2 separate regions of the Homo sapiens genome follow, and region 1 is linked to region 2. The links come from fine-mapping of genetic effects on gene expression. A gene starts in region 2. The other region holds a variant in brackets. All regions are shown on one strand. Distances are between the middles of the regions.

Evidence for each region.
Region 1: its variant is fine-mapped to the expression of MYCL in whole blood (INTERVAL, PIP 0.97).

What each region holds. Positions count from the first base shown.
Region 1 is chr1:39,835,704-39,838,610 of GRCh38, forward strand. It overlaps TRIT1 (tRNA isopentenyltransferase 1), which reads right to left. Exons shown (of 11, transcript NM_017646.6): 11 at 2,407-2,907. It overlaps LOC105378667 (a long non-coding RNA gene), which reads left to right. Exons shown (of 4, transcript XR_947221.3): 4 at 2,174-2,252. Among named protein-coding and RNA genes, the nearest start is that of LINC02811, 20 kb to the left of the region's middle. RefSeq lists a silencer at 1,200-1,400. The variant T/G (reference allele first, on the strand shown) is at 1,728.
Region 2 is chr1:39,900,756-39,903,602 of GRCh38, forward strand. It overlaps MYCL (MYCL proto-oncogene, bHLH transcription factor), which reads right to left and starts at 1,162. Exons shown (of 2, transcript NM_001033081.3): 1 at 184-1,162. The coding sequence starts at 679. RefSeq lists silencers at 416-535, 946-1,265, 1,526-1,735.

The DNA.
Region 1 (2,907 bases), 65 kb before region 2:
AAGAAATGCCCTTGCAGAAGTAGAGGGTTGTGGTTAGAGTATGAGTTTGGAGTCAGCCCAAACTGGCTTCAAATCCTAGCTCAACAAATGTTTATGGGATGTGTTAACTAACTTGATGGTGGTATAGATAGATAGATGGATAGACAGATAGATAGATAGATAGATAGATAGATACACACATACATATATACACATATATAAAATCACTTTATATAGTTTAAATATATATAATTTTATCTGTCGATTATATCTCAATAAATCTGGATAAAAATAAAAGGCTGACTTCAAGTAAAAAAACAAAAACACAAATAAGTGCTTTTAAGCAGCAGGCCCTTGTAGATGCCAGGGATAAAGCAGTGAACAACAGACAAACATCGCTGCCCTCACCAAGCTTTATCTCTGCTACTCGGCAAATATTTGCATGTTTACTCTGTGCCAACCACTGTTCATTAAGCTGTGTTTATAAAATGGTGATAACAGATTATCTTGTCCGTTTGTTTTAAGGAATCATTATAACGTATGCATGTGCTTGATATAATGCCTGACACACAGAAGCACTCAACACAGAGAAGCCATGTCTACGTTTAGACAGGGAGGTGTGTCTTGCAGAAATTAGCCTCGATATACATTGGGTGCCCACTATATGTTCCACAATCATCTTAAAATAGTACTCAGATCCTGGCAGAATTTACTTTCCAGTGGGAACAAGAGATAAATAACAGGTGCTATGAGCTGTGGCAAAATAATGAGCCAGAACAGACTCTGGAGCCACCCACCTATTTTCAAATCCCAGCTTGCCCTTGGGAAAGTCACCTAACTGCTCTACTCAGTTTCCTCAGTTGTAAGACAGAGACAACAAGAACAATGACAAAACTACCTCATAGGGCTTTGTGAGGATTAAATGAGTTAATATGTGTAAAAGTGCTTAAAGCAGTGCCTAGCTCATAGGACTACCTAAGCACCAGCTAATGTTAACACTATTACGTATTAACTGCTAGGAGGAGAAATTAAGTCTCCCTAGAGTCAAAGAAGCTTTTTCTAAGGAGAGGACATCAGATCTGGGCCTTGAAGGATGTGCAGGAGTTCACTAGGTAAAGAGCAGGGGAAAGGACATTTCAAGGGAAGAAAACAGTTCAAGCAAATGAGCTGACCCATGGAAGAAATCATATCATTGAAACAAACAAAACTTAACAGCTGAAGCCTAGGTGGGTGGCAGCTGAAGCCCGAGGCACCGTTTCTGGCCATTAGTACTATAGTCCACCAAACTAGTCAGTCTTAAGTCAGAGCTTGCCCTGATAACTTCCAAGAAATGATACCATATCATAAACCAACATTTTAATAGCATTAACAATTTTTCCCCAATGAAGCAAATAAATCCAATTTGTACTTACCATTTACTGGGCACTACAGTGCCAAAACACTATGCTATTTACAACAGGACCTCACTTAATCCTTACCATGTCCCGTGGAATACAGATAACTTCATTTTATACATGAGGAAACAGGCTTTTAAGCAATATTCCCAAGATCACACAGATAGTATATTAGAAAGTAAAGTGTTCAGCTGCAAATACAAATAGTGGTTTCTTTCTCCCCCTGTCCCCTCCCTGCCACATAAAGTCTGAAAGTAGGCAGTTAAGTCATTAGTTCAGTTATTCAACAATGCCACCAAAACACCTTCCATCTTTCCTCCCCACCATCTTTACAGTATGAGCCACTGGCCCTGA[T/G]GTTTATACAGTCTCCCATTCCCTATAATGCTTTCTTATTCTCATCTTAAAGTCCTACCAGCCAGGATTTTCTCAAGCTTTACTTTTTGAAATATTTCAGAGGTCAGCTCAATACAACTCACTAATTTCACAGATGGAGAAATAGATTTGCCCCTAGCAAACTGAGTTAAATTAATTAGTTAAATGAGCCTGGAATTGAGTGCTCCTTCCATGATACCAATCTAGTGGTGACTGTAAGTTGCCCACCAAAACCTGTCCTCCCATTCCTTCTTGGCACATGGCTTGACTACGTTTCTCAGCCTTCCTGGCAGGTAGGTGTGGCCATCGGGCTAAGTCATTGCCAATGGAAAGTGAGAATGTAGGCAGAAGTATCCGTGCCACTGCAGGGTCCAGGCCTTGAGGCAGCGGGTCTACCTCCTCCCTGTTCCTTTTCCCCTTCCCATCAGCTAGGACCAGTGATGACCCAGCTTCAAGCATGCAGCAGATGAGGACAATGCTCCAGAGGATGGAGAAGCAACATGATACGAGGAATCTGTGTCCCTGAATGACCATTTGGTGCACAGCTGCCCCAATGACCTGGATCACTCACTTCAGACAGGTTAATTCCCTTCAGAGCTGTTACGTGAGAAAGAATAAACTTCTTTGTTCTTTAAGCCACTGTATTGTTGAGTCTCTTTGTTATAGCAACTTAGCCTTTTACCTGAACTAATACAAACATGCAGCTTCCTTTGTAAGCATTCAGAGTAGCTTTACAAATAACCAGTTAGCCATCATTTTAGAAAACAGCCTTAACTGCCCAAGTAGGTGATAATCAAATACAGAAATTCCTGCTGGTGGCTATCCCAAAATTTCTTCATCCTGGTTAAAAAGTATTTAACAATTGAAGCAGATCACTTATGTAGAGACCTACTTAGTTTTTATGCTTTCATGCAATTGATTCAACAAATATTTGACTGTGTCTAGGTGCTAGGGATATTGACAAGTCACTGCATTCATAAAAGGTTGATTTCATGCATGTGTGTTTGGGGGAGGGGGTTGTTAGTTTTATTTTCTTTTTGAGCAACATGGTCTTGCTCTGCCACCCAGGCTGGAATGCAGTGGCATGATCATGTTTCACTGAAGCCTCAATCTCCCAGGCCCAAGCCATCCTCCTACCTGAGCCTTCCACGTAGCTGGGACT
Region 2 (2,847 bases):
CTGTTTACCAACACACCCACGTGCCAGACAGACACGGTTGGGGACTACACGGGCAGCTTCAGCCAAAGAGAGGCGGAGATGGCCCAAGAGCTTGAGAAGAGCCAATGCCTGACCTCAGGCAGGGGCAGAGCTTTGGCCACCCATGGGGTGGCCCCCTCTTGGATGGCTCGGGGAGGTCCTTACCCGAGTCGCTTGGGCTCTCGGACCCGGAGCAGGCCTGGGTCTTGGGTTCGCCCAGCGGACAGGGGGCGGCGGGCGCCGGGTTGCCGGCTTCGAGGCTGGGAGTGCAGTCCGGGGCGGCGGACGCCTTGGGCGGGTTCCCCCGGGGCGCGCCAGGAGCGAGCCGGTCGCTCACAGCTCTCTCCAGCCGTTCCCGGGCCGAGAAGCCGCTCCACATGCAGTCACGGCGTATGATGGAGGCGTAGTTCCTGCCCCAGCCTTTCGAGTGGCCCCGGGATTCCGCTTCGTCTCCGGTGCACCCTCCGGGCCACGGCTCCGGGGGACCAATCCCGGGGGCCGGGTCCCCTGCGCCGGGACCCAAGCCCCAGGGCGGCGACGTGGGGGGCGATGGCACCAGCTCGAATTTCTTCCAGATGTCCTCGCTGGGCGCCGTGGAGCGGTAGAAATCCTCCCCGCAGTCATAGTCGTAGAAATAGTGCTGGTACGAGTCGTAGTCCATGTCCGCTCCCTGCGGGAGGGAAGGGGGGACGTGCTGACCGGGTGCCGGCCGGGCGAAGGAGGTGTCCCCGGGTCCCTCGGCACAGTCGGCTGCCGGGCTCTCGTTCCTCCCCAACCCCACCAGCTTGCAGCCTGCGCCCAGTCCTCGCGTCCCGGGAAGCCGGGCCCCGGGTCAGAGTGGTAGGGGAAGCCAATCGCAGCGCGCGGACCCGACTGTGGGCAGCGAGTTCAAAGCAAACTTTGCCAGCGCCGCCCGGAGCGCAGCTCCCAGGGCCCGGCGGGGCCGGGCGGGGGCGCGCCGTGCCCAGAAGGCAGCCTGCAGCCAGCCCGCACCGCGGGACCCGCGCCCGTGCCCTGGCCACCCGCAGCCTCACCTCGCTCCAGCCGCCCGCCACCTGGAGCGGACCGGCTCCCCGCCGGCTCGGGGCAGCCCGGCAGCCAGCACACACGCACATGCGCGCCGCCGAGAGCGCGGCCCGCACTCACAAGCGCGCCCCCCCCGCGCGCGCGCCCTCCCTCGCTCGCGCACGGCGGCCCGGACGCTCTCGGGATCGGCGCGGGAGCGCGAGCTGCAGGCGCATTGTTTCCTGACTGCCTTATATCTCGTCGCGCGCCCGGGACCCAGGGACTGGGGGGCGGGCCCTATGGGACAAACCCCGCCCTCTCCCTGCCTACTACGGGCAGTCGACAGGTGGGGCCGGCCCCACCTCCTGGCAGCGCTCGCCCGCTCCGTTCAATCCCCGGTAGCCCCCCAAATAAATTGCACGCTGGGGAGCGCAAACAGGAGGAGGGCTGATGCGGCCCGGCGGCCGCTTGGCGGTGCCAGCCGGCTGAGCTAAACCGTGCTCCTTGCCCACTCCGAGCTGGGGAATTAGGGCTACTCCCCGCCCCACCCTGCGCGCCTACTTTCCCCGGCGCACCCCGCTGGGTTCAGGTGCGCCCGAGCCGCCGCGAGGGGTAGGGGGAGGGAAACGCGCCACCTGGCGGCCCTCAGCCCTGAACTTGGGCTGGTCCCGGCGTCCGTCTGGTCACCCGTCGGCCCGTTTCTTGAGCTCAGTGGCCCAAGCCTGGATGGCATCGAAGCGAAGATTCCGGGATTTAGAGCCCGAAACGTAACCTTCCTGAGCTTCAGTTTCATCTGTAAAATGAAGGGATGGTAATGCTTACCTCACAGGGTTGTTGTGAGGCTTCAGGGAAATAAGAGCATCTAGGGAAGGGGTCTGGTCTAGGTGGAGAGGCAGACGGCGCTGGCTTAGCCCCCGCTTTGGGGAGGCGGTGCAGAAATGAGGAATTTTTCCCAGGGCAAAGCCAGCTGAGACCCGCCATGCTCCCTCTCATCTCACACAAAACACTGTAGGAGCTGTACAGTAGAGAATGAGGATTTGGCATCTGGAAAATACTGCAGGACCAAGTTGTTTCAAGTTTTGCCCTGCATTGCTGGCCAAGATGATAGATAACCCCTTTGTATAATCTTCTTTTTAAATTTTAAATATATTTTGTTAAGAGACAGGGTCTCACTCAGCGTCAAGGCTGGAGTGCAGTGGCTCGATCATGACTCGCTGCAGCCTCGAACTCCTGGGCTCAAATGATCCTCCCTCCTTAGCCTCCGAAAGTGCAGGGATTACAGGCACGGGTCACCGTGCTGGGTCCCCCTTTGTGTCATCTTCTACACAGATGACCTTTGGTGGAAGAGAAAAAATTAAACTATACGGCCAGTCTGAGATTTAGGCCAGAGGAGAGTAACTTGGGACAGCAGCCAATACATCTAGATTCCTCCACCTGGCATCAAGGTCTGGTGTCTGTCTACCCCAGCCTGATTGTCTGCTGTCTCTCTCTTTCCCTCCCACCCCTGTGGTCTAAGAACACCAAACTACTCACTGTTGGCAGACGGAAGTGAGAAGGGCAAGCAATTCAGTGTGGTTGGAGCATGGGACACGGATGTGTGTTGTTATATGGGTTGGGAAGGCAGGGAAAATGACAGCCTTCCGTTTTAGATACGTTGGGTCTGTGCTGCATGTGGGACATCTTGAAGGCAGAAACCTGCTCCTACTTGCTTTGTGATTTCTGCACCTAGAACAGCTTCTGGCAGACATTTGTGAACTAACTGACTTACTGAGGGACTCAGCTAACCAGATTTCACTGAGACAGCTTGTGTGCCCTGCTTTGTGC